4 linked regions of the Homo sapiens genome follow. The protein of the gene in region 3 purifies or fractionates together with the protein of the main gene of each other region. This does not show direct contact. Each region holds a gene or a part of one and is shown on either strand. Other genes may lie near its edges.

What was found.
Region 1: the proteins of IPPK (region 3) and MRS2 purify together in Homo sapiens (affinity purification with mass spectrometry; 2 studies listed by BioGRID and IntAct, with this or other methods). This does not show direct contact.
Region 2: the proteins of IPPK (region 3) and GOLGA5 purify together in Homo sapiens (affinity purification with mass spectrometry; 2 studies listed by BioGRID and IntAct, with this or other methods). This does not show direct contact.
Region 4: the proteins of IPPK (region 3) and TMEM63B purify together in Homo sapiens (affinity purification with mass spectrometry; 2 studies listed by BioGRID and IntAct, with this or other methods). This does not show direct contact.

The regions. Positions count from the first base shown.
Region 1 is NC_000006.12:24,398,370-24,405,961, reverse strand, and holds the start of MRS2 (magnesium transporter MRS2 homolog, mitochondrial isoform b precursor), read right to left. Parts: upstream 3,027-7,592; 5' UTR 2,916-3,026; coding exon 2,726-2,915; intron 795-2,725; coding exon 721-794; intron 1-720. UniProt on the Homo sapiens protein: Magnesium transporter that mediates the influx of magnesium into the mitochondrial matrix and regulates magnesium metabolism. Also permeable to calcium, sodium and potassium ions.
Region 2 is NC_000014.9:92,797,305-92,804,304, reverse strand, and holds part of GOLGA5 (golgin subfamily A member 5), read right to left. Parts: intron 6,898-7,000; 5' UTR 6,868-6,897; coding exon 6,324-6,867; intron 1-6,323. UniProt on the Homo sapiens protein: Involved in maintaining Golgi structure. Stimulates the formation of Golgi stacks and ribbons. Involved in intra-Golgi retrograde transport.
Region 3 is NC_000009.12:92,646,112-92,653,143, forward strand, and holds part of IPPK (inositol-pentakisphosphate 2-kinase), read right to left. Parts: intron 6,529-7,032; coding exon 6,462-6,528; intron 3,464-6,461; coding exon 3,342-3,463; intron 2,038-3,341; coding exon 1,948-2,037; intron 1-1,947. UniProt on the Homo sapiens protein: Phosphorylates Ins(1,3,4,5,6)P5 at position 2 to form Ins(1,2,3,4,5,6)P6 (InsP6 or phytate). InsP6 is involved in many processes such as mRNA export, non-homologous end-joining, endocytosis, ion channel regulation.
Region 4 is NC_000006.12:44,137,551-44,144,582, reverse strand, and holds part of TMEM63B (mechanosensitive cation channel TMEM63B), read right to left. Parts: intron 6,104-7,032; coding exon 6,066-6,103; intron 5,117-6,065; coding exon 4,974-5,116; intron 4,876-4,973; coding exon 4,824-4,875; intron 4,332-4,823; coding exon 4,223-4,331; intron 3,556-4,222; coding exon 3,485-3,555; intron 1-3,484. UniProt on the Homo sapiens protein: Mechanosensitive cation channel with low conductance and high activation threshold. Osmosensitive cation channel preferentially activated by hypotonic stress.

The sequences.
Region 1 (7,592 bases), on a different chromosome or scaffold from region 3:
GGCTAATTTTTTGTATTTTTAGTAGAGATGGGGTTTCACTGTGTTAGCCAGGATGGTCTCAATCTCCTGACCTCATGATCTGCCCACCTCGGCCTCCCAAAGTGTTGGAATTACAGGCGTGAGCCACCACGCCCGGCCGGCACACCTTTTTATCAAGACTTTTTTTTTTTTTGGAAAAAAAAAAAAAGCCTACAAAGAAGTTGCAAGAATATTACAACCAATTCCCATAGAGCTTTCACCTAGAGTCACCTTTGTTAACATTTTGCCCCAACAGCCTTCTTTCTCTAAAAATACGTGTGATACATTATCTTATTCATTCATTTCCCCCCTCATCCCCACCCCCGAACCATTTCAGAGAAAAGTTAGAGATCATGACCTTTCAAAGCATGCATTTTTAAATACTACTCTCTGCTGCCTTCAAAATGCTTCTGCCTGCGTATTATCTTGCAGAACATAGGTTCAAGCCTCTTTATGGCTCTGAATTGTGATTGACCTGTTCTAGTATTAAAAGGGGAGCTGCAGTCATTAGCAAAGGTTCAAGATCATTGTTAAGCAAATCTAGCAGGCACTTAGGTCACTGGCCAGGCACAACAGCCACGACATGTAGCTATGATGATTATAAAGCTCAAAATAAGTAGTATCTTGGCCAACAGTCCAACGAGTTAACTTATGTATGGGAAGCACTTTCTGTACGATTTCCAATGTACTGTACATACTCACCACAGTAAATACTGGGGCTACACTGGCTAAAGTGGCTTGAGAGACGTCAGAGGTTCTAAACCGGTGCACTTCACCTGAAGAATAAATTAAGAGAATTCCTGTGGTCACATGATTGGTTTTCACATAGAGCTAAAATACAACTCTCAAAGTATGTGGAGGCCTTCAGACTATTTTATTATTTTTAAATATTTTTCCTATAAGAAAAGAAGAAATACTCTTCTTAATTTTAACATCTGTTAGTGACTATCTTAGGTTTGGCAGGGAATGATTTTTAAAACTAATGGCTTAGGTGAGGCATTAAAATAACTGATGGATTCCAATCACCCTTTTACCTTTCTAATTATTACTGATATCTCAGAGTTGGATGAACAAATGTGCAACATCGTGTTCTGAGATTTAAGAAAATGTCTGGTCTTCCTTTTCGCATAATTTAAAAGACTCTTCATGCACATTTGGTAGTAGATACATTTTAGAAAACATAGGTCCTAAGTACCACCTGATCTTTCAAGCATTCCAGTTGACTGGCTCATAAATTATGAAACCTATGATTTTACTTCTTTTCTACAGATATCCTTTATAGTGAATACTTATGAAATACCCCCACTGAGCTGAAATGACAAATCTTTATTTTAAAATTGTCTATTTAAAACGTGATTAGACTGAGTCGAAGTGAGCGGTGAAGTATAATCAAGTACATTTAATGACTGACAGAGGACACTGTTTTGTGCTTCCAAAGTAATTACACTGATTCCAGAGACTGTAGAAAAAAAAACCTATTTCTGATCTTTTTTCTACTACATACACGTAATGATTGTTGTAATTTGTTAGTATCTGAAGTTTCATTTCCCTTTTACAAAATACAAATTATCACTATAAGGGTAAGATGAATAAAGGTAAAAGGCATTTGCTGATTACAAATGCCTTTCAATGTTTTAATGTCACAAATTAGAGTGTAACCGGGATTGAGATTGTGAACGTCAATGCTTGTCCTAAAAGTTTCCTCCAACTTGCTGAAACTGGATTCCCAAGCATTATCAATTGAGGGTGCAGAGCATGTAACCCAACTTAGCCTCTCCAATAAGTGGAGAATGAGGTGCTGACGAGGAGTTACTTTGGGAGGCTTTTGAGAGCACAATTGAGAAAACATATTTGAGGACACTGCTATGTTCTTAATAAAGTCATTCATTTCAATACCTTTTATTCCTCAAATATTTGCACTCACATTTGTGAAAATCTTAACTTTTCACCATGCTTCAACATTTGGTGAAAAAATAAACAGCAAATAAGATTTTTTTTTCTCAATCCGATCTCCCTGGCTGTTTACTTATAGAGTACTGTAGTTGAAAGTAAGTCGTTCTCAGAAACAACTCAGTCTTTAGCCTCACTTCTAGGTGCGTCCCCAATCTCCGTGCAACTGGACAACTGTATAAATGTGTCCATAACGAAGAAACAGAAAACAGGGAAGTATTAATTTATACTTATGACTTCCGAACAGATGAAATCCTTGTTTAAAAACACCTCTCGGCCAGGTGTGGTGGCTCACGCCTGTAATCCCAGCGCTTTGCGAGGCTAATGCGTTAGGATGGCTCGAGGCAAGGAGTTTGAGTCCAGCCTGGGCAACATAGTAAGACCCTGTCTCAAAAACAACACAGAAAAAACCTCTTACAAGAGCACTTAAGCGGGTGTTAACTAACGTGATCACGGTCTGTAAACGATTCCTAGGTTGTTCCTATGGTTACATAATCTGCAGCAAGGGCGGTGGAGGAGAAGGCAGAGGGTTGGCCGCTGGGACCCCGGCAGGGCACAGCGCACATAGCAAGGTCGCATTCTGAGCGAGTGGGACGCAGCTCGGCCCGCGGGCCTGTGCAAGCTCACAGGACACGCGGGAGGCCGAGGCCTGCGGAGGGCGCGGAGCAACAGGCGCGCCGCGCCGGACGGCTGGGGCAGCAGTCTAAGGTCACTGCAAGACCAGCGTCCCAAGGCTGTTGCCGGGGAAGGGCAGTACCTGCCACGCGGAGCCGGTCGGGCCCGCAAAGCTGCGCCGCTCGGCTCCTTCCAATCAGGTTGGCTCGGCGGCCGCAGGCAGCAACGGGAGGACCCACAGAGGTCACGTCCAAGGCCAGGGCACACAGCGTCCGCCGGGGAAGTCTCATCGCGCGGGGCAGGAGGCAGGGTAAACTGCGCAGGCATTCCATGGTGCTGGAGCAAGAAGCAGGCAGCAGCCAGACCCCAGACCTTCATGCCGGACGCTGGCTGCTCAGGCCGCAGCTCTGACCTGTCGCTACCGCCCGACCTGCAGACTCTGTGCACCAGGCATGCGCGGGGCGTGCCGCGCCTGCGTGCTACTTCCCCACGCATGCTCGGAAGGTACCTGTGGGCGAGCCTGTTAAGTCCACAGCCAATAGACGTTTGCTTGCCTACCTGTACCTGCACCTGTACCTAAGTGAGGGGGCAGGCGGGCTGGGAGATGGGTGGAGCACGTTTACCTGCACTAAGTGAGCTGTCCAACCTAGGTTCTTGGGCGCTTGGAGTGTCATGGTTTTGTAGTTTGTGGAGAATTTTCATACCTATGAAAATTGCAGTTTGGAAATGAGCAGGTTACCCATTCCCACATCATTTAATTTATATTTAAATTTAACGTGGTGTAGGGAGCAAGAGGGAAAGCTCCTACTTTTGCCCTCTGAAAGTTGCTGGAATGAACTAAGTAGACAGATTAGCAGGAGAAAAAGGCATACAAAATTTGCTTAACGTGCATAGGGAAAAATCACAGAAGAGTGATTACTCAATAACTCAATTAAGGTCCAGATGCTTGTATACCCTTCTTTGTTGAGTAGAGGGAGATAGGTATGAATGGGCCCGAAAGCCAGACAGTGGTTTGCAAATGATTCTCCTTGGACATTCAGTGGGACAGAAGTACAAACAATCGCTTGTGGACAAGCTGTGAAACTTCACTCTGAACAAAAATTGTCCTATTATACAGGTAAAGTTTCCCAGGTAATCTCTTGGAGCTACCCTCAGAAGTATCTATGAAAAGTCTCAGTGTGGCTATGACTTTCAGTTTTTGTCTCTTCTCTGGGTGATTAATCTCTTCTGATTATTTAATGCGATTCCTAAGGAACGGGTTTTAAGACAATTGCATTTCTTTGGAAAAGAGTTTTCTCTGTCAGATAAGGAAATTCCTTATCTGGCTGTGCAGGAAAAGAGAGCCCCTTCAGGTGCTTGGAAAAAGTAAGAGTATCAGAGAGACAAAAGGAAGGGGGAAGGTGAGAGAGAGAGGCCTTGATTTTTAGGCTTCTTTCTGAGACCCTTTTAATTTCCTTTAATTCAAAGACTCAACATGCCACCGGGCGTGGTGCCTCATGCCTGTAATCCAGCACTTTGGGAGCCAAGCACTTTGGGAGGCCAATGTTGTGGACCACTTGAGGTTAGGAGTTCAGGACCAGCCTGGCCAACATGGCAAAACCCGTCTCTACTAAAAATACAAAAATTAGCCGGGTGTGGTTGCAGGTGCCTGTAATCCCAGCTACTTGTAAGGCTGAGGCATAAGAATTGCTGGAATCCAGGAGGTGGAGGTTGCAGCGAGCCCAGATCATGCCATTGCATTCCAGCCTGTACTGCATTCCAGCCTGTACGACAGAGTGAGACTCCCATCTCAAAACAAACAAACCCCAAAGACTCAGCATGCCAAAACATCATATTTTGGGGTATTATGGTTTGAGCCCCAGTAGTGGCAAAAATAATCAACTGTCATATGGAATGATGTCATGTATTAAACTTTTGCTATAAAGAATGAGGAGCACAGACACATAAGATTTCTATTCCATATTTAATAAAATGTAAGATAGCATCAATTTTAAGGTACCATTATTTTATGTACCACCAAGAAAGAAAAAAAAACTGATAAGTTATGCTTTCTAAACATGTAGATTGAAAGACATATCTCAATTCCAGTCTTTAAAATATGAAAAAAGTCTTAGGTTAAATACAGTATGTATGCATATTTTAAAAATATGAGTTAATAAATTTATTGTCCCTTCCACAGTAGTAATACAAGGCAGACACAAGTTCCACAGACTTCCTTTCAATATCTATGTATGGACACAAAGCTAAGGAGACAGAGATAGAAACATTTTATTCTGCAGGGTACTGGGACTGGGGATGGAGTAGGAGGGCAGTGCACAAAGAGAAGCCTTCACAGAAGAGAGGATGTTTGACTTGATAATGTGGGGAAAAGAAAGAGAGATCAGATTGTTACTGTGTCTGTGTAGAAAGAAGTAGACATAAGAGACTCCATTTTGTTCTGTACTAAGAACAATTCTTCTGCCTTGAGATGCTGTTAATCTGTAACCCTACCCCCAACCCTGTGCTCCCTGAAACATGTGCTATGTCACCTCAGAGTTAAATGATTAAGGGCTGTGCAGGATGTGCTTTGTTAAACAAATGCTCGAAGGCAGCATGCTTGTTAAGAGTCATCACCACTCCCTAATCTCAAGTACCCAGAGACACAAAACACTGCAGAAGGTCGCAGGGACCTCTGCCTGGGAAAGCCAGGTATTGTCCAAGGTTTCTCCCCATGTGATAGTCTGAAATATGGCCTCGTGGGAGGGGAAAGACCTGACCGTCCCCCAGCCCGACACCCGTAAAGGGTCTGTGCTGAGGAGGATTAGTGAAAGAGGAAGGAACGCCTCTTTGCATTTGAGATAAGAGTAAGGCATCTGTCTCCTGCTTGTCCCTGGGCAATGGAATGTCTCAGTGTAAAGCCCGATTGTATATTCCATCTACTGAGATAGGGGAAAACCGCCGTAGGGCTGGAGGTGGGACATGCTGGCAGCAATACTGCTCTTTAAGGCATTGAGATGTTTATGTATATGCACATCAAAAGCACAGCACTTTTTTCTTTACCTTGTTTATGATGCAGAGACATTTGTTCACGTGTTTACCTGCTGACCTTCTCTCCACTATCATCCTATTGTCCTGCCACATCCCCCTCTCCAGGAAACACCTGATAATGATCAATAAATACTAGGGGAACTCAGAGGCCGGTGCCGGCGCGGGTCCTCTGTATGCTGAGCGCCAGTCCCCCGGGCCCATTTTTCTTTCTCTATACTTTGTCTGTGTGTCTCTTTCTTTTCCAAGTCTCTCATTCTACCTGATGAGAAATGCCCACAGGTGTGGAGGGGCAGCCCAACCCTTCAGATAATTGAAGGCAAAGAAAAACTTTAATCATTGCTTCCAGGGCGTTGAAGTCTGGAAAATCGCTGAGTATAGAGAACATGGCTGGTAGATTTTTCATTTTACTAAAGCTTTAATGATGAGATAAGTATTTCAAACATATTACATGCCTTCAGAGATGCTTCTTTGAGAAAATATGTGATAACTTTCTCTTTAAAACAAAATTTGCACCCAGCACAATGAGACAGCTCTAAGATAACTTTTGCAAAGTCTAAGGAAAACTCTGGAACCTGTCCAGACGTACAGCCTCGTAATTCGTGGCAAAGATTTTTCTGAGAAGGGTGGGAACCATTGGAGGACTTCGAGCAGAGAGGTAATGAGCAGAGGTAACAATCTGATTTATGTTTAAATGGGTCACTCTTGCTGTGTGGGAAAGAGACTACAGAGAGGCAATTGGAAGCAGAGAGATGGTGATGATGGTTTGGGCTAAGGTGGGGATGGTGGAGAGGGGAAGATGAGTTGGGCTTGGTACCATATATTGAAGGCTGAGTTGACAACATTTGCAGATGGGATATAAGAGAAAGAGAGGCATAGATGTTGCTCCAAAATGTGTATCCCGAACAGCAGGGCCTTGCTGGTGCTATTTACTGAGATAGGGAATTTTGGAAAGGAGCAGTTTTTTTTTTGTTTGTTTTGTTTTTTGTGACGAAGTCTCGCTCTGTCGCCCAGACTGGAGTGCAGTGGTGTGATCTCTGCTCACTGCAAGCTCCGCCTCCCGGGTTCACGCCATTCTCCTGCCTCAGCCTCCCAAGTAGCTGGGACTACAGGCGCCTGACACCACGCCCAGCTAATTTTTTGTATTTTTAGCAGAGATGGGGTTTCACCGTGTTAGCCAGGATGGTCTCGATCTCCTGACCTTGTGATCCACCCGCATTGGCCTCCCAAAGTGCTGGGATTACAGGCGTGAGCCACCATGCCTGGCCAGAAAGGAGAAGTTTTTAATTGAAAACTGTGGCTCAAACCTGTAATCCCAGCACTTTGGGAAGCCAAGGTGTGCGGATCACCTGAGGTTGGGAGATCGAGACCAGCCTGACCAACGTGGAGAAACCCCATCTCTACTAAAAATACGAAATTAGCTGGCTGTGGCGGTGCATGTCTGTAATCCCAGCTACTGAGGGGGCCGAGGCAGGAGAATCACTTGAACCCGGAGGTGGAGGGTGCGGTGAGCCAAGATCGCACTATTGCACTCCAGCCTGGGCAACAAGAGTGAAACTCCCGTCTCAACAACAACAACAAGAACAACAACAAAAACAAGAACAACAAAAACTATGGCATGGCATTTGGTTTTGAATGTTAACTTCGAGAGATGTCCTAGACAGATATCTGAGTGTAGATGTCAAGTAAGCAGCCTGGAATTCAGGGAAGGTGTTGGAGATAGATAGTTACATTTGAGACTGTATAGAATATTTAAAGCCACAAGATTGGAAGAGATCTCCCAAGAAGGCCGAGCACAGTGGTTCACCCCTGTAATCCTAGCACTTTGGGAGTCCGAGGCTGGTGGATCACCTGAGGTCTGGAGTTTGAAACCAGCCTGGCTAACGTGGCGAAACCCCGTCTCTACTAAAAATATAAAAATTATTGGGGTATGGTGGCAGGCGCCTATAATCCTGGCTACTCGGGAGGCTGAGGCAGGAGAATCG
Region 2 (7,000 bases), on a different chromosome or scaffold from region 3:
TGCCTGAGTCCAGGAGTTGGAGACCAGCCCGGGCAATACAGTGAGAACTCGTCTCTACAAAAAATTTTTAAATAATATAAAAAATAAAATATTAAAATTCAAAAAATAAATTAAGTATATATCCAAATGTGGGATGATATCTAAGGCAGTATTCTGAAGGAAATTTATAGCCTTGGTTACATTAAAGATGAAAGGCAGGAAGGAAGAAAACTAATGAGTTGTATATCCATCTTAAAAACTATAAAAACAGCAGAACAAACCCAAAGAAAGCAAAAATTAACAAAAGAGGAAATAAACATACTAGAGAGGATCAGCATAACCAAAAGTGGTTCCCTGGGACAGATATAAACAACATTAGGCCATCAAATTTTAAAATGTACAAGATACTGAAATCTATCAATTGCACAATACTTATCGTGCAGTTTATTGCATGTGAATTATACTTCATTAAAGCTGTTTTAAAAAGCAGGCATTTAGTGCAGTGCCAGAAACAGGGTAAGGATTCAATATATGCCAGATACTGATATTCTTCACACAGTATGCATGATCAAGCATTGGTTTTTGCAGGGTTGGTATGAATAACTAATGTTTGGTTGCGTTGAAAGTTTCAGCTGTGACCCCTACATTATTTTCCTGAAATTAAATAAGTATAACCCCTCAAAATGTGTATGACATTGACAAATTCTTGGGGAAAAAAACGTAACTTACCAAAAACAGATTCAAGAAGAAATGAAAAGCCAACTGAATCAATAGTTAAAACCTTTCAGTAAGAATACCCCAGGTCCTGATGGTTTTAGCACAGAGTTCTAGCAAACGTTCAGGAAATAAATAATCTCAGTCTTACACCAATTAATTAACACAACAGAAAAAGAAGGAATACTTTCCAATTCATTTGATAAGGCTAATATAACTGTAATACTAAAACCTAACAATATCGCAGGCCGATTTCGCTTATAAAATAAATGCAAAAGGTTAGGTGTGGTGGCTCATGCCTGTAATCCTAGCACTTGGGAGGCCAACACAGGAGGATCCCTTCAGCTCAGGAGTTCAAGACTAGCCTGGCAATATAGTGAGACCTTGTCTCTACAAAAAATGAACAAAATTACCTACGCATGGCGGTGTGTGCCTGCAGTCTCAGTTACTATTGAGGCTGAGGTGGGAGGATTGCTTGAGCCTGGGAGATTGAGGCTGCAGTGAGCTGAGATCCCACCACTGCACTCCAACCTGGGCGACAGAGTGAGATCCTGTCTCAAAATAATAAAAATAATAATAAATAAAAATTAAATTAACTAAATAAATGCAAAAATCCTAAAGGGAATATTAGCAAACTGAAAGTTAAGTTTGGTTTTATATTTAAAAGTATCAACTGGAGCTGGAGCTAGGTGCAGTGGTGTGCACCTGCATCCCAGTGAGTTGGGAGGAGGAAGTGGGAGGATTACTTGAGCCAGGAGTTTGGGGCTGCAGTGCACTATGATCATACATGTGAATAGCCGCTACATTCCAGCCTGGGTAACACAGCAAGATCCCATCTCTATTAAAAATAAATAAATAAATTGATTTATTAAAAATAAATAAATTGATTTGTATACTATATTAATATTAAAGAAGAAAAACTATATTATCTCCAAGGGTAGAGGAAAAAACATTGCTAAAATTCAACATGATAAAACCTCAAACTAGACATTTATGGGAACTTCCTTAAACAAATAAAAAAACTATAAAAAACCTAATGTAAAATCATACTTAGTGAAACAAAGTATTCCCTCTAAGACAAAGAACAAGATACAAAACTGGTCGTTGAGTCCTAGCCAATGAAGAAAAGGATTTTTTAAAAGATAAAAGGGCTAAGAAGAAACAAACTGTCATTATACACAGATAATTGTGTTGTTGAAAATCTAAATTTATGTCCAGAAAAACATGAAGATTAAGAGCCATCTAGATTGCTATGTATGTACACACAAAAAAACAACAAAAAATACACCAGCAATAACAAAGCAAAACATTTTAAGGAATACCACATATAATTGTTTCAAAAAATATAAACTACTTAGGAATAAATCTAACATAAAGTATATAAGATCTTTATGGAGAAAACAATAAAATTTTAATGAAAGACACTACAAAATATGTTGAAATTATATCCCATTGGTGGATAAGAAAACTCAGTATAGCAAAAGTGCTGACTCTCACCAAACTGTCTATATAGAAGCAATTAATTCCCAATAAAAAGACCAACAGAGTTTCTGTGAAACTTGATGAGCAAATCCTAAAATGCATACAGGAGTGGAAAGGTCCATGAACAGCCAAAACATTTCTGAAGAAAGACCACAAGGTGGAAGAAGCTACCCTATCAGTTATCAAGACACATAAAACTACATTAATTAAAACAGGGTGGCACTGGCACAAGGATACACAAATAAACCAATAAAACAGAATTAAGTGGCCAGAAACACACTAATGAATACTTGATATATAAGACAGGTGGTACTGCAAATTGGTAGGGACAAGAGACTCTGTTCAATAAATGATGCTAGAATAGCTGATTTCCCTATGGCAAAAAAAAAAAAAAGAAAAAGGGAATTGAATGCCTATCGCACACTATAGAAGACAATACAGAAAAATATCTTTATGATCTCAGTGTAAGGAAAGATTTTCCAAGACACAAAAAACACAAGCCACATGCCATCTACATTAAGAACTTCTATTCATTGAGATGCCATAGACAGAGGGGAGGGGAAAAACCAAGGTAAAACTGGAGGAGGAAAAGAATTTAGAATTTAGAATATATAAAGAATGTCTATGAATCAAGAAGAAAAAAGACAAATAATCTAACAGAAAAAAGTTGATAAAAAAGACTTGACACTTCCAGAAAATGAAAGTTCAATAGTCAAATATCTGAAAAGATCTTCAACCACACTAGTAATGAAGGAAATAATATCAACGACAAATCTGATCAGCAAAAAGTAAAAAGTCAAATTGAAAATAAAAAATGTTGGTGAAAATGTGGAGCAAAAGAAGTTCTTAACCATAGCTGGTTAGAGTATAAATTGGCACAACCTCTGCAGAAAGCCACTTTGGCATTACTAGTGTAGCTGAACATTGTTAAACCCTACAGCTCAGCAATCCCATTTCTACACATTTCTAGGCATCTCAGGACATTGGTTCTCAACTGGGATGATTTTGCCCTGCAAGGGACATTTGGCAATTTGTGGAGACATTGTTGGTTGTCACAATTGGGGGTGCTACTACCACCTAATGGGCTAAGAGGCCAGAGATGCTGCTAAACATCCTACAAAGAACAGGAGGGCTTCCCACACTATTGAATTAATTTGGCCCAAAACACCAAGTCTCAAGGTTGAGAGGTCCTACCCAAGAGAAACAATTTTTATAACTCCTGTGTATTATAACCAGTTCTAATTCATTTCCCTGACAACGAGGTTCCCTTTAGGTCCATTCTTTCTAATTAAATGCAAGCTGCTTTCTTTAAAAGTACAAAAATAAGCTATGTCAACTCTTGACTTAAAGATCTCTACTAGCATCACACTGGCTATGGCAGCCACTTTCAACTTTTATTGGCTAAGAACCACCCACAGAACAACAACAACAAAATCAGATGCCCTGGCTCCATCCCCAGAAAATAACGATTCAGGAAGCCTGGGAAGGCACTCAATAATTCATTTTTAAATTAACAACACACAAGCGATTCTAAAGCCTGTTGTTCAGGAATCAATCTTTAACAATGATTATAGAAGTAATGGGTTTAATTGCATAAACAGTATGACACAAGGGCCTTCACAAACAGGTCCCAACTTTGTTTGCTAGCTACATTTTCTTCATCACCCTCCAACTCACTCAGTGTTTCCAACTTTGTTACAATGTTTTCTACTCTACTAGCCTCTTAGAGTCTGTTCTCTCTGCATGGAATGCTGTCTCTAACTTTTTACCTGGCAAACTCCTGTTCATTCTTTAAGACCCAGCTAAAAATACAGACCCTCTGTGAATCCTTTCTGAATACCCTAGGCAATTAGTTACTTCCTCCTTCATACTTCCACAACACTCTGACCATACTTAATTGCTACATTTACTAGACCACAAGTAAATTATCTGTTTACATGTCTAGCTCACCCACTGGACACTTCCATATCCTTGCACCTAGTAGGTTCTTTGTGTAATTAATTGAAAGATAGCTGAGAAGAAATTTTGGAATATGTGAACATATTAATCAACTGCTACTGCCTGATCCTATTTTCACAACCCAAAACGTCTTCTTCTATACAAGTTTTTGTCTTGAAAATACAAGAAAGATTTTATTCACTAACAGCCAAGACAATGAAAGAAGCTATAACATCCAAGAACATGACAATCTCCCATCAATAATCAACTCTATAAAGAATCCCTGGCCAGGTGTGGTGGCTCACGCCTGTAATCTCAGCACTTTGGGAGGCCAAGGTGGGCAGATGACTTGAGGTCCGGAGTTCAAGACCAGCCTGGCCAACGTGATGAAACCCTATCTCTACCAAAAAATACAAAAATTAGCCAAGGGTGGTGGTGCACACCTATAGTCCCAGCTACTCGGGAGGCTGAAATGGAGAATCGCTTGAACCCAGGAGGTGGAGGTTGCAGTGAGCTAAGATCGCGTCACTGCACTCCAGCCTGGGCGACAAAGCGAGACTCCGTCTCACAAAAAAATAAATAAATAAATAAATAAAAACATTAAAAAAGGCCAGGCACAGTGGCTCACGCCTGTAATCCCAGCACTTTGGGAGGCCGAGGCGGGCGGATCACAAGGTCAGGAGATCAAGAGCCTCCTGGCTAACAGTGAAACCCTGTCTCTACTAAAAATACAAAAAAAAAAAAAAAATTAGCCAGGCGTGATGGCAGGCGCCTGTAGTCCCAGCTACTTGGGAGGCTGAGGCAGGAGAATGGCATGAACCCAGGAGGTGGAGCTTGCAGTGAGCCAAGATCAGGCCACTGCACTCCAGCCTGGGTGACAGAGTGAGACTCCGTCTCAAAAAAGAAAAAAAAAAAAAAATCCCTATGGCCAGGCCACGGTAGATCATGCCCATAATCCCAATGCTGTGGGAGGTCAAAGTAGGAGGATCACTTGAGCTCAAGACCAGCCAGAGCAACACAGTGAGACACTGTTTCTATTAAAAATAATTTTTTAAAATTAGCTGGGCACAGTGGTGTGCACCTATAGTTCCAGCTACTCAGGAGGCTGAGGCAGGAGGATCGCTTGAGCCTGGGGAGGTCAAAGGTAGTGCGAGCTGTGATAGCATCACGGCACTTAAGCCTCGGCGATAGAGCAAGACCCTGTCTCAAAACAACAAAAGAATCCCTGCAAGAACCTACTATCAAGTTTTTTGCCTTTTTTCTATTTTTATCTTTGGAGACAGCGTCTCATTCTACGGCCCAGGCTGGAGTGTAGTGGTACAATCTCGGCTCACTGCAACCTCGACCTCCTGAGCTCAATCAATTCTCCCGCCTCAGCCTCCCAAGTAGCTGAGACTACAGGCATGCACCACTGTGCCTGGCTAATTTTTGTATTTTTTGTAGAGACAAAGTTTTGCTATGTTGTTTAGGCTGGTCTCAAACTCCTGGGCACGAGTGCTCTGCCTGCCTCAGCGTTCCAAAGTGCTCGGATTACAGGTGTAAGCCACCACGCCCAGCCTATAGCTATTTTAAAACAGTTAGTAGGTACTTGAATTAGCCACATTTACCACGTTAATCTCATTTCACAAGAAAGAAGGTGTACTTGTAGAGGTAATCTCAGAGGGAATTAAACAATTGAAAACAAGAGTTCTAAGCTCTTGCTTCACTACTAGGTCAATGCCTTCAACTCTTCAACTTGGATCAAAGTTCAGTCTCTCAGCTTTATTTGTGGAGGATGTGGGGGGAAAAACACACAAAAAACACAACCCAGAAAATACGTGAAGTACAGCCTCCTGTCATTTTTATAATCCTAGTAACAAAAAGATATCAACTGGGATAGTCCCCGATCCAAACTGACATGTTTTCTTTCAGATTTCAAAATTTTCTTTTTTTAATCTTAAAATGTCTTAGAGAAACAAATTTGAAATACTTTGTTAGATGCTGAGTGGGTGAAGTTGCCCTCCAGACAACATGAAGTCCCTGCTACAACTGTCTATTGACTAATAGTAGTCAATGATGTCTCCCTTGTTTACACCACACATTTGCAGAGAGTCTGCCCTTACACCAGTGGAGACAGATTCCATAACAGTAGATGAGAAACACCATCGGATCATATGATGACACATTCAATTTGCTTAACTCTAAAAGAAATAAGAGGACTGATTAACTACCGTGGGTTTGGCTCCCAAAAGAATTTTCTTCAATGGTTTTGATGGTGGTTACACTGGGGTTCACAGAACTGACACTTGATGTCTGAGAGCTCTGAAAGACAGGTGTCTTGCCTTTTTCCTTTCTGATTTCCACCCTCCCGGTAGGCTCCTTCTGTGAACTATTAAGAAAATCAAACAGCAGCTCATCATCAGGTTCTGACTTTTTTCTTCGCACAAAATGGGATGAAGGCCTAGGAACAGATGCATTTTCAACAGGATGAGAGGCCTCTACTGGTGTCCGAGATCCTACTTTCACATTTGCAGTGCCAGCTAAGATGGTGGCTTTTTGATTTCGAATGTTATCAGCTGCTGATGAAATATACGTAGATTTAGGTCCAGTCTGATATATCAAATCTGTATTTTGCTGGTGAAGTTCAGTATAGTCAGTATTTTTGCTATATATGTTGCTGGCATTGTCTTTCCTACTGAGAGCTGTTGCAGCCCCTTGATCAACTCGGTTTAAAAGATCTTCTGCCTTTCCAGCAAGATCAACAAACCAAGACATGATGGCAGCAGGATAATCCTATTGGCAAACCTGTAAAAAGGACATAAAATGATCAGTGTGGCATAGTGGCAGAGTATGATAAATGGTTAAGACCAGACTCTGGAGTCAGGCAATCCTGGGTTGAAATCCTAAC
Region 3 (7,032 bases):
GGGAGCAAAGCTTTAGAGGAGCAAAACTTTGTCTATGATTGAAATGGAGTTGGTATTAACCTGAACTAGACTGTTCAGGTTATTATCTTAAATTAACACTCAGAGCAACGAGGCAGAAAGTCAACAAGAATGAAGGCTTGAACAACACTATGAACCAACTAGACCGAACACATCTATAGAAAATCCACCCAGCAACAGCAGGTTACACATTCTGCCCAAGCAAACATGGAACAGTCTTGAGGAAGAACCTTATGTTAAACCACAAAACAAGTCTCAATACATTTTAAGAGTGAAATCATGCAAACAATGTTCTCCAAATACAGTGGAATGAAACTAGAAATCAGTAACAAAAGAAAATTTGACTCACAAATGTGTAAAAAGTAAACACTCCTAATTATCAGTTCGTCAAAGAAGAAAGCAAAAGAGAAATCAGAGAATGAATTAAGATAAAATGAAAACACAACATACCAAAATGTATGGGATGAAGAGAAAGCAGTTACTTAAAGATTTATTAGAAGAATGATCTTAAATGAATAACCTAACTTTCTACAATAAAAAGCTAGAGGCCGGGCACGGTGGCTCACACCTGTAATCCCAGCACTTTGGGAGGCCGAGGCAGGTGGATCACGAGGTCAGGAGATTGAAACCATCCTGACTAACATGGTGAAACCCCGTCTCTACTAAAAATACAAAAAATTAGCCAGGCATGATGGCGGGCGCCTATAGTCCCAGCTACTCACTGCACTCCAGCCTGGGTGCAGAACGAGACTCCGTCTCAAAAAAAATAAAAAAATAAAATTAGAAAAAGAATAACACACTAAGCCCAATCCAAGCACAGGGAAGGAAACAGTAAAGATTAAAGTGAAGACAAATGAAATAGAAAATGGGGGAGAGGGGAGCAGAAAACTGAATAAAACCAAAAGTTGTTTCTTTGAAAGATCAACAAATATGACACAATCCTGTGGCTAGACCAAGGAAAAAGAGACAGAAACCAAATTACTAAAGTCAGATATGAAAGAAGGGGACACTACTACTGACCTGTATGCCATCACATTAGATGAAAATGGACAAATTCCTAGTAACACACAACTACCAAAAAAACCCACTCAGGAAATAAGAGAATCTCAACAGATTGGTAACAAGAGACTGAATCAGTAATCAAAAATCTTCTAACAAAGAAAATCCCAGGACCAAATGCCTTCACTAGTGAATTCTACCAAACATTTCAAGAAGAATCAATACCAATACTGAAACTCCTTCAAAAAACTGGAGAGTGAAAAGAAAATAATTCCTAACTCATTCCATGAAGCCAGTTATTACACTAGTACCAAAGCCAGACACCACTAGAAAACTACACACCAACATCCCTTATGATTCAAAAACCCTCAACAAAAAACTAGCAAACTGAATTCAGCAGCATATAAAAGTATTATACACCATGAGCAACTGGGATTTATCCCAGAAATGCAAGGTTGGTCCAACATGCGAAAATCATGTAATATACCATATTCATAGAAAGAGGAAGACACCTTGCTTTGAAGTGATAAAAATGTCAGCAACTAGATAGAAGTGGTGATTGTACAACCTTGTGAAGAGACTAAAACTGAATTATATATTTAAAAGAGTGAATCTGGTGAACACGGGCCGGGCGCAGTGGCTCACACCAGCACTTTGGGAGGCCAAGGCAGGTGGACTGCATGAGTCCAGGAGGTGGAGGCTGCAGTGAGTATGATTGCATCACTGCACTCCAGCCTGACAGGGTGACAGAGACCCTGTCTCTAAATTTAAAAAATAAAAAAGTTGAACATGAATCACTTTGTGAAATAAAATGTCAACTAAAAATATCCATATTTTCTTTTACTCTTCTGAAAACTGTGTGTGTCCATGCCTCAGCCCAGATCCCCAGCGTGCAGCTAGAGTAGCCCACAGCTGGGCATTGGCTCTCACCTTGAGGTGCTGGTGCATGCAGTATCGACAGACCTTATGCTTCATCTCATGCGTGACATCACTCGAGAAAGGAATAAACCCACATTTTGGCTGTAAAATAAACAAATAAGGAGGAAAAATATTTAGGAAGAAATCACATACCTCTAAATAGACATATCACTGACTACAAGATAATGAGTGCAGCAAGATAATTAGGCATAAATGGCCCCAGAAGCTGTTTTCATTTGCACCTCCCAGCGGGAACAACACTTCCTGCATCAGATCACACAAACATCTCCGCTAGAGGACCCACGGCCGGAACTCTCACTGGGGAGGGTCAGTGGTGCCTCTGCACTAGCTCAACACAAGCACAACACACAATAGCTTCATGCTTTCATTCAAGAATGTGACTGCAAGCCTCTAGTAGTAGAGATGGACCCAGGACTCCCAGCTCCAAGAATCGGAACCATTGTTCCCACTGACACTAGCACATGGCCCGACAGAGGCCCATCTGATAGTTGCTAGGCTCCCAGAAGGTCAAGGAAGCCCCAGTGCCCTCTAAAAGCTGCAGCCTCTGAGCATACACCACACGCAGGCCTGTGCTGAGCCTCGGGCACTGGAGATGGTGGCTGGGGAAGCAGAACATCCACCCACAAGTGAGGAGGATCAGGAGGCATGAGCTCAGGCCAGGAGTGTGACCCAGAAATTGCTGCCTTAGAGTTGGAGGAGGGGAACAAAGGCCAGGGCATGTGAGGCAGCTTCCTGAGGGACCCTGACAGCCACCCCCGACATGGGAAGCAGAGAGCTGAAGCAAGGGGGGCCCTGGCCCATCCAGCCCCCACTGCCTGGCACCAGAGAAATTCAGGACTCCTGGCCATGACACACCAGTGCCTCTGAGGGTCACACTGGCCTTTGTGCCTCCAGGAAAATTCGTCCTGAGCAGGACAAAGAGAGCTCCCCAGTCTACAGGGCAACCTGCAGATGGGGCTCCTGCAGCACAGCAAACAGCAGCCAAGCACCAAGCAGGCATGGCCAGCAGGGAGGGGCACAGAGGAAGAACCCAGAGGACCCTGGCAAGCTGTGCCCTCTGAGGAAAACGGGTCAGGGGGACCCAACGCGCTTCCCTCTGGTGACCCTCAACCAGGGCTTGTTTTAGCCCAGGCATGCAGGGTGGGTGGGGTCTTCTATCATGAGCTACCAGGAATGAGCCTAAACCTGGGATCTGGGAGCCATGGCAGGAACCAGAACGCAGGTGGGGGCTGTGGAAGGACAGAAACAAGTGGAGTTTCCAGGAGCCAAGGGTGCCTACCACTCACTTCAGTGGGAACTGGAACCCAAGGCACGTGACTCTTGGACTTACTACCCAAGACTGACCTTTCCCCTTTACCCACACCATCTGCCCCTCGACAGGTCACCTTAATCTCTACACACAGAATCGGCCGGTGCTCTGCAAAGCGGTAGGTTTGGAGTCTGGTTAAATTAGGAAGGCACATAGCGTAACCACTGAGAGTATCCAGGTCCTTGTCACAGCGAGACTCTGGAAAACAGAGCAAGGGTCACACAGAGCAAGGTCAGTGAGAGAGATGAGATGATCCCTGCCCAAAACAGGCCCCGCCTTGTCCCTGGTTCCAGGGGGCATCTCTGTACCTGATGAAAACCTCATGTCTCCCTGGGGATTGTGGGACACACACAGTAACAACGTGGTTTAGGCCAGGTGAGGTGGCTCACACCTGTTATCCCAGCACTTTGGGAGGCCAAGGCAGGTGGATCATGAGGTCAGGAGTTCGAGACTAGCCTGGCCAACATAGTGAAACCCCGTCTCTACTAAAAATACAAAAATTAGCCAGGCATGGTGGCACGTGCCTACAGTCCCAGCTACTCGGGAGGCTGAAGCAGGAGAATTGCTTGAACCCTAGAGACGGAGGTTGTGGTGAGCCGAGATCGTGCTACTGCACTCCAGCCTGGGCAACAGAGCAAGACTCTGTCTCAAAAAAAAAAAAAAAAAGGCGGGCACGGTGGCTCACACCTGTAATCCCAGCACTTTGGGAGGCCTAAGTGGGCAGATCATGAGGTCAAGAGATCAAGACCATCTTGGCCAACATGGTGAAACCCCATCTCTACTAAAAATACAAAAAATTAGCTGGGCGTGGTGGCATGCACCTGTAATCCCAGCTACTCGGGAGGCGTAGGCAGGAGAATTGCTTGAACCAGAGAGGCAGAGGAGGTTGCAGTGAGCCCAGATTGTGCGCCACTGCACTACCGCCTGGCGAAGGAGCAAGACTCCATCTCAAAAAAAAAAACAAAAACAAAAACAAAAAATAACTTGGTTTATGTAGGGGGTAGCTTCACGCCTTATGGTATCGGCTCAAACTCTGGAGAGGCTGGAGACTGCAGTCAGCCACACCGATGGTCAGCCATGTCGATGTGCCTGAGCCCCAGTGAAAACTCTGGACAACAATGCCTGGTGAGCTTCCTGGTGGGCACACTCCATATGGGAGAGTGAATACTGCCCACACCACCCCTGAGGAGAGGACCCAGAAGCTCATGCCAGGTCTCTCCTGGACCCCACCCCTGCACCTCTCCCCTTGGCTGGTCCCATCTTTATCCTTTTCCTGCAATAAAACATAACCATAAGTAAAACAGTGAGTTATGTTGGTCCTTCTAGCGTATTATCAATCCTGAGGGTGGTCTTGGGGATGGTCCCCTAATTCCACAACACCCTTAGCCCAGGAACTTGAAGAGGAGGGGGCTGCAGGCTCTACCTTCTCTCACATCTAGGCCCTTCCCAGTCCCCAGTGCACCAATATTTCCCCAGCACCAGATCTGCTGGAACCCGTGGTGTGGACAGAACCAAACAAGCCTGGGCTCCAGGCACCCCAGGGACAGGCTTTCCTCCTTTAACATAATGAGCCTTACTCCAAGTCTGGTTTTTATCACTGTGGTGTGATAAACCTCCCACGGTTGTTATGAAATGGCAGGCTGAGCAGCAGAGCAGTTGCAGACAGCACCCTGGAGCCGGGCTCAGACTGCATTCACCGAGAGGAAGAACTGGAGCCTAGCCACTGTCCTGTGGCGTTCCCGCCTCCCCAGCCTTTCCTGCAGTGTGAAGCCCATTCCTCCCTGCCCCAGCCAGAGACTGCAGACCCAGAGAATGGTTTGCTTTCATTTTCCAAATCAAATCAGGAAAAAATTTTATACTGGCTAATTCCACACCCTCATTGCCTGGCTGTGCTCCGGGCAGAGGCATTTCCACCCTCAACTCACGAAATTTATCTCTTTGATCACTGACTGAAAAAAAAGGTTTGACCTGATTCCTGTCATAAGGCCACCAGCAAGTGCAGAAAAGGGAGTGGGTGGGGATGGAGGAGAAAGGGAGAGGCGAAGGGATGGGAGGGGATTGGGGAAGGACAACATGAGGATGGGGAAGGTGATGCCACAGAAGGCCCTTGGATTCCCTGTTCCTCAGAAGGACACAGACCTAGCCTAGACTCCGGTTGGGGACAGCTCCCTGGGCTGCAGACCCTCCTGGGCCAGGCCCTCCCTCCTGAAGCTCAGGTCACCTCAGTTTCCTTTTGCCTCTCCCAGGCCTCTGGGAACCCTTCCCGTTCCTAAGTCTGCCCCAGACCCTCCACCTCCAGCTCCTCCCTCATGTTGTTTTCTGTGGTATTAATTTGTTCTTTTTTGTTCGTTTGTTTGAGACGGAGTCTCACTCTGTCACCTGGGGTTGGAGTACAGTGGCGTGATCTCAGCTAACTGAAATCTCTGCCTCCCGGGTTCCAGCGATTCTCCTGCCTCAACTTCCCAAGTAGCTGGGATTACAGGTGCCCGCCACTACGCCCAGCTAATTTTTGTACATATATATATTTTGTTTGTTTGTTTGTTTTAGTAGAGAAGGTGTTTCACCATGTTGGTCACGCTGGTCTCGAACTCCTGACCTCAGGTGACCTGCCTGCCTCAGCTTCCCAAAGTGCTGGGATTACAGGCGAGAGCCACCGCACCTGCCTTTACTGGTTCTTCATCACATATTCTGTGCAGTGCTGTGGTTTTCTGATACAGAGAATTGTATCCATGAGCTCCCAGGATTTCTATCCCTGATAATGAAGTTTCTGGCAAAAGAATTACTGAAAACTGGCTGGGCACGGTGGCTCACGCCTATAATCCCAGCACTTTGGGAGGCCGAGGTGGGTGGATCACGAGGTCAGGAGATCAAGACCATCCTGGCTAACACGGTGAAACCCCATCTCTATTAAAAATACAAAAAAGTAGCCGAGCATGGTGGTAGGCGCCTGTAGTCCCAGCTACTCGGGAGGCTGAGGCAGAAGAATGGTGTGAACCCGGGAGGTGGAGCTTGCAGTGAGCCGAGATCGCACCACTGCACTCCTGCCTGGGCGACAGAGTGAGACTCCGTCTCAAAAAAAAAAAAAAAAAAAGGATTACTGAAAAATGCATATACCTAACATGGGTAATCATTTCAAACACTTTTCAAATGGAATATTTTAAATTACAAACAATATCTGTAAGTTAAACACCCTTACCTGGTCTTTCAGATTGTATCTTTAAACAAAGCTGTTTCACAAACTCTAAAGGTAGCTGAACGACCTCCTGTAAGAAAATACATGAAATTCTCAGTGTGAATTGCACAATGACATGAACACAATGCCACAGAACTGCATGCCTAAAAACAGTTGAGCTGTTGGTTTTTATGTTATGTGTAATTTATAATATTTTTTAAAGTTTATTGCTTAAAAAAAAATCAGTGTGTGGATTTTGGGAATAAAAGCTGCTCTATTATTTTCAGGACATGTCCAGGTTAAATAGAGACACCAACATTTCACTGCAATCAGGGTGGCCAGCTCTCAGAATGGCTGGGCCCACGGTGGTGACCAGCCTCAAAGCCAGCTTCTCTCGCCACAAAGCACCCCTTCCGAGCCCCCTTCTGGTCTCTACAGCATTTATGGACCCAGAGCAGTTCTTAGACCACATGGAAGACCCTTACTGACCACTCAGACAACCTGAGAACCTCACGCTTCCACCTGAGGAGCAGGTCAGCATCTGAAGAATCACTTGTCTCAGGAAGATGGCCTGTGCCTCCTCAGCCCTGAAGGA
Region 4 (7,032 bases), on a different chromosome or scaffold from region 3:
ATGAAGGACCACCAAGTATTGAATGCATGAGTTACTGTTCTAAAGTATTAAGATAGTCCTCATAAACCCATGAGAATTTAGAAACTTAAATCTGGGATAGGGTCCTTGAGATGTACTTCCCAGGAGGCTAGAGACCTTTCCTCTGATATTGTTCCTCAAACCATTTGAGGTTTCCCCTTTGGAAGGGTGAGCTCTCATTCTCACTAAACTCATCTCTAATCCTCTAAATCCAACCACACAGGCCCGTTGATTTGCATGCAAGATATTTCCTAATTGTGCTGAGACAGTCTTCCAATCCAGACAGACTGCAGACTTGGACCACAAGCCCTGCCTAATCCTGACAATGAGCTCAAGCGCTGTCTCTTAGTCCTCACCATATACCCAGCCCTGTCCCAACAGCTTGTATATAGCAGGTGTTCAATACACATGTGGTAAATGAGCGGATCAATGAAATGGCTACTCCATAATGCTCATCCCAGTGATCCAAAAAACTCCAATTAGGACTAGAGTCTCCCTTACCCCTGCTTATAGGCTGACCTCTCCTAAACAAAACTATAGACCAACCCCTGAAACACAACTAGGATCTTCAGCTTCCCAAGGGCACTGATCAGGTCTGATTATACTCTGTCTCCCAGGCATGAAGCACATAGTAGGTATACAATAAATGTGGGCTGAATGAATAGACAGTTGACTAGTAGGGTTCACTCAGGTCTCTGTTCAAATGCCACGCTGTCAGAGTCCCTCCCTGTCTATCCCATCAGAAATAGCAACCCTTCCCAACCCCTCTTACCCTGCCTGCTTCCCTGCTGTGGTTTTCTTAGCACCTACCTCTTCTTGACACAGTCTCTATTACTAGTTCATCCGGTCCCTGTCCACCCCTCCCCACTAAAATGAAAGCAAATGAGGGCAGGCCTTCTGTCGTTTACTGCTATACCCCCAGCTCCTCCCCAAGCAGGCACATAGCAGGTGCTCACTAGATATTTGTATCAAAAAACAAAAACAAAAACAAAAACAACAAACACCAGATTTCAATACAAGCTGACAACTGATTCCAACTGGATGGTAATATTAAGATGTCACCTAATTCATTGTTACAAAAGATGGTATGAGAAAAAAAAAAGATGTCACTAATTCTGAGTACACACTGTCCTTAATCCTGACCCAGAGTGCCCTTTAATGCTGATGACAGCTTGAACCTCAGATAGGACCCCAAATAGTTCTCTCATACTGACAAGAATGATCTAATTTTGACTGCTGTTTTATAGCCTGTATAAGGGCTGGGCTTGTTTCTAATTTATTTGTGCCTGGCACATAGAAGGTTGTCAATAACTGCATGTAGTATGAAAGAGTATCCATCTACTAATGCTGATCACACACCAGTCCTTAATCTTCTAACACAGGCTCTGGAATCTGACCCTGACCAGATAGATGTTCACTCTCAATCCTGCCCAAACACTATCTCTGATTGGATCACACACTGGCCTGACCCAGGACAATGAGTGAACTCTGATTCTGGCCAACTGACAGGTCTGGACCTCAGATTAAACCTTGATTCTTTACTTTCTTTCTTTTTTGAGACAGGGTCTTGCCCTATTACCCAGGCTGGAGTACAGTGGCGCAATCAGTTCACCACAGCATTAGCCTCTTGGGCTCAAGCCATCCTCCCACCTCAGTCACCTGAGTAGTTGGGACTATTGGTGCATGCTACCATGTCTGGCTAATTTTTATATTTTTTGTAGAGATGGAGTTTCGACATGTTGTCCAGGCTGGTCTTAAACTCCCGGGCTCAAGCAATCTTCTCAAGGGGATTACAGGCATGAGCCACCACACCTGGCCTAAACCCTGATTCTGATGGTAGACTGAGCCCAAATCTCAACCTCAGTCTGGGCCATGATCCAGACCACCAGCATCCTTTATCATGACCACTGGCCAGCTCCTGATTCTGACCACAGACTGACCTCAGAGCAATCTCTGATCAGACCCTGGACTAGCTCCTAAAGCCGACTGCCATACTATGAACCCCCTGAGAACTCAATGATTTTTTTTTCTTTTTTTGAGACAGTCTCGCTCTGCCGCTCAGGCTGAAGTGCAGTGGCACAATCTCGGCTCACTGCAACCTCTGCCTCCTGGGTTCAAGCGATTCTTCTGCCTCAGCCTCCTGAGTAGCTGAGACTACTGGTACGCGCCACCATGCCTGGCTAATTTTTGTATTTTCAGTAGAGACAAGGTTTCACCAGTAGAGACGGGGTTTCACCATATTGGCCAGGCTGGTCTCAAACTCCCGGCCCTCAATGATTTTTTTTTTTTTTTTTTTTAAGACATGGGGTCTCATTATACTGACCAGGCTGGTCTTGAACTCCTGGCCTCAAGTAATTCTCCCATCTTGGGCCTCCCAAAGTGTTGGGATTACAGGCGTGAGCCACCGTGCCTGGCCTCTTCTATTTTTTATTTTTTGAAACATTTGAAACAGGGTCTTGCTCTGTCACCCAGGCTGGAGTGCAGTGGTGCACAGGACTCACTGCAGCCTCGACCTCCTGGGTTCAAGCGATCCTCCCACCTCAGCCTCCCAAGTAGCTGGGACTACAGGCGCACGCCACCACACCTGGCTAAGTTTGTATTTTTTGGTAGAGATGGGGTCTTGCTATGTTGCCCAGGCTGGTCTTCAACTCCTGGGCTCAAGTGATCTGCCCACTTTGGCCTCCCAAAGTGCTGGGATTACAGCCATGAGCCACCATGCCTGGCCTCATTCATTTTTTACAGTCCCAAAGCCCACCACAGTAACTTATGACTAACAGCACTTGAGAAAGTTTGCTGAGTGAACAGATGCCTGTGTGAGAGTAGCCCTAATCCTGTGGTATAGAGACTGTCCCTACACACCCCCATGGAGGGGCCCTTCACTGATTCCCCACCCTATGAGCTGCGCCCCAAGGTGCATCCCTAGCCATGGGGTGACCAGGTAAGTTCCCTCTTTGCCTCATTATACCACCTCCCTTTTCTCTAGTTTCTGGCCATAGGTCTGCTCTACCCACCCCAAAACATAATTCTAGAGCTGAAAAAGCCTCAGAGAATACACAGTTCAAGTTCTCCTGGACTCCTTGGAATCCACTGGAAACCAAGGAGCTTCTCCCTGTCATGGCTGCACACAAACTCCAGAATGCTGCTTTTAATTTTGAAGAAGATATGTACTCCAATGGACCTGGGTCAACAACCTATGACCCAGTCTGAGCCAGGAGGAGGTTTGGGGGTTAGGGGGTTTGAATGACTCACTCTTCAGGTTTTTGTCTTATTTTTCCTGTTCTTAAAGGGGCCTATCACCCGACCCAAGTGCTAAACCACCCTGGAATCGGACATTTCTTCCTGGATCTAATCTCTATCCCACCCACGGCAGAGCTCCAGGCTAGGGTATAAGGATGTTCTTAGAGTTCAAAGGCAGAGAAGGCTCTGCAGCAGGGCTTGAGGGTAGGGGGAAGCGTGGCTTACTCACTCAAAATGCTTCTTGATCTTTTCTGACTCTGCATATTTGGAGATTCCATTGATGAAGAGGGTCCGCTTCACCTGGGTGACAGGGGAGTGGGTTTGCCTTCTGAGGCTTGACCCCAGTGGAGCCAGGGGATGTGAGGGGTGGGGGGCACTAGAGAAAGAGGCTTTGTTTTGAGTGGGTAGAGAAGTAGGTGAGCAGAGGGGAACAGATGGGGTGGGAGGAGGCCTTAGTTATGGATAAGCCAGGTCCCAGGGAAAGCAGGGGAGTGTTTCCAACAGAAATCAGGCAGTGAGCCTAACAAAAGAGCCACGCCGTCCCATGCTCTTGAGGGGTTATAGAGGCAGAAGGGGGTACTACTTTCAGCTCCTTAGACCCTGAGAACCCAGCACAGTGGCTGGCATGGAGTAGGTGTCCGGTTCTGGCTTGGTGAGTGCATGTAGAAGGGGAAGGAATATTACTATCCTAGGATCAGCCACTGCTATTTTCCCAAGTGCTGGGCACAGCACGGCTGTTTCTGTGTATTCCCCACAACCTTGGGGGAGGTACTGTTGTTATTCCATTTTACAGATGAGAAAATCATGGCTTGGGAGGTTATGTAACTTGCAGGATGGGAGCTCCTGAGCTGCTGTGCCAGCATTCAAACCTAGCTGACACCTCTTGGGGCTGAGACAAAAGAGGCCTGCAGGGAAGGGAAGGGAAGAGGCTGGGGATGGGGCAGGACCTGGGCTCTGCTCCACGCACCAGATCATCCTCCTTGTAGCGCATCTTGGAGGTGTGTCTACGCATGCTGTAGACGGTGAGCAGCAGATACAGGAAGGCGAAGGAGGTGTGCAGCCATAGCAGGTTGTTCCTGGGAGAAGCAGAGAGGATACATGGGAGCCACTGGGGCTAGGACACACTCAGAGGAGACACCTCAGCCTGTCAGTGTTAAACCCTTGATACAGACAGGGCCCTCTACTGCCACCAGCCTTCTGGCACTGACTCCTCGCAAGGCAGGCCCACATCCCACATCCCCTAGACACCAAAATTCTTCGATTCCAATGAAAATATCCCTGATAGGTCACCTTTCTACGCCCTACCCACTGGTTACAGTGTCTCCAACTGCCCCAGCTGGCCCTCCCTGGTTCCTGAGATTTCACCCTCCTCTTCTGTATCCTCTTCATCCTTGGGGGATCCTCAGCAGGCATTTCCCTCTTCTGTCTCCAACCCAAGCCCTCAGGGACCCATAGCCATCCCTGTAGGCTCTGCTCCCATCAACGCAGCTGCCTTTCCTCCCTGTCCCACATCATGGCCCAGACTCTGGTCGTAGACCTTGGCCTGGCCGACCAGCTTCGCATCTTACCCTGATTTCAAGTTGGCAATGGTGGTTCTCCCAAAGCTGTAGGCATTGTTCTCTGTGGGGTGGGAAGAGGGAGAGGATGATGGTGGGGTCAGGGCACATCCCCTCCAGCCCCATCCTCTCTCCACCCTAGCCGTCCTGGCCCTCACTGACCCAGCAGGTCCCCTGAGAAGTTGACAGGCAGCACGATGCCTACGGAGAGGACGCCCACAACCACCAGCAGCCCGATGATGTGCCGCTGAAAGGACAGGTAGTGCACGGCATCGCCCCCACATTTGTCCCGGATCTCATCATCCCTGCAGCCATACGGGTTGGACAAAGGAATTAGGTTAGGACCAGGGCAAGAAGGGGGCTGCAACTTGCCTGCCCTCACCCACTCCCACCCCAAACCCACCCTAGCTCCAGCTGATCTGGCAGTAGTATAGGGCTGAAATGGGACTTCTTGGTCCCCTATTTTCTGTGAAGGGAGAGGGGAGAAAGGGAGAAGAGAGGGGGAGGGAGAAAAAGGAGAAATGCATGGAGAAGGGGAGGGATGAAGGCAGAGGGCTAGAAGGAAAAGATAGGTAAAAGAAAGAAGAGACTGCAGAGACAGGAAGGGGAAGAAGAAAAATGAGGAATGCAGAGAAAAGGGAAGAAAAAAGAGAAATATCTGAGGAGGGAGGAAGGCAAGAGAGGAGGAGGACCAGCAGGAGGAGGAGTGGTGAAAGAGGCAGAAGTGAAGGAAGGATGGGAGGAGGGGCAGCAGCACCTCATGGGTGTGGCTGAGCCTGGCGTAGTGAAGCCCGGGTACCCTTGGGGGAGGCCTGGGGGAGTGGTGGCGGCAGTGCTGACCTGTCCTGGCTTCCTGCCTTTCTCAGCGCTCACTGCCTGCCTGCTGGACTCTGGCTGGATCTCCTGAGTTCTGCCTGCAGCTGGCTGGCTGCTCCCAGCCTACTGCTGCCCCCACTCACTGGCTGCACAGAGGTTGAGGCAGGGGCTCCACCCCCTCCCTCAAGGTGGGGCAGGGCAGGGAGAGAAGCGGGGGGGCCGGCAGGGGGTCACAGAGGAGATTATGGGGTCAAGTGAGTGTTCAGGGTACAGCAGAGGCTCAGGCACCCGAGGCTTGGCCTTTGAGAGCAGGGAGGAGGGTGCTGTGCTGGCGAGGAGTGCTAAGGCCCTGAAAGCTGCTGGCTTCTGAATTTTGTAGGGAGATGCCAGGTTCTGAAGTTTCTCTCTTTCTTTAGAGCTTGAAGATGGTCCACTTACTTTATCCTGAAGATGGCTGTCAGCCAGGAACAGAAACCCTGGGGGAACAGAGGGCTGTCAGCGGGAGTCCCCAGCCCACCAACCCGAACCTCTCTCCTCCCTCAAGTCCCACCCATTCTCATAATTACCTCCAGGCATAGCTTCCACACCCCTCACTAAAAAAAAATCCTTATACCCTCAGAACTAGCTTATACCCAAAAAGGGAGAGAGAGAGGGAAGGTCTCAGCCCTCAAAGAAAAAAGACCAACACTAAACAGGTTTATCTGTGAATCCCCATGTCCAGATCTACAGATTTCTGCAAATACCCTGTGGCTGTGTGGGCCAGGGTGGGATGGGTGGGGCTTGGGGTTCTAAGGTTAGCAGGACCTCCAGACCTCCGGCTAATAAGTTTGCAACATGGCTGCCAAAAGCAGAGAAGAGGGCCTTGCTGCCTGAATTCCAGCTATTTATCCTCTAGTCTACCCCAGAAGGACAAAAGCCCAGGGTCACTATGAGCTGCAAGGTATCTCCCCACCTCCGGCCAGGTGCGGTGGCTCACGCCTGTAATCCCAGCACTTTTGGAGGCCAAGGCGGGCGGATCAACTGAGGTCAGGAGTTCGAGATCAGCCTGGCCAACATGGTGACACCCCGTCTCTTACTAAAAATACAAAAATTAGCTGGGTGTGGTGGTGCGCGCCTGTAATCCCAGTTACTTGGGAGGCTGAGACTGGAAAATTGCTTGAACCCAGGAGGCGGAGGTTGCAGTGAGCTGAGATCACACCACTGCACCCTAGCCTGGGCGACAGAGCAAGACTCTGTCTCAGGGAAAAATTAAAAAAAAAAAAAAATCTCTCCCCTCCACCCTCCAGGCATGTAAAGGCAGAGAATGGGGATATTCAGGGGAGGGCTGCGCAGAGGGCACCCTGCCCCAAACTCCATCCAGCAGAAGGTCCAGACATAACACAGGATGGGGTAGAAAGGTGCCTTT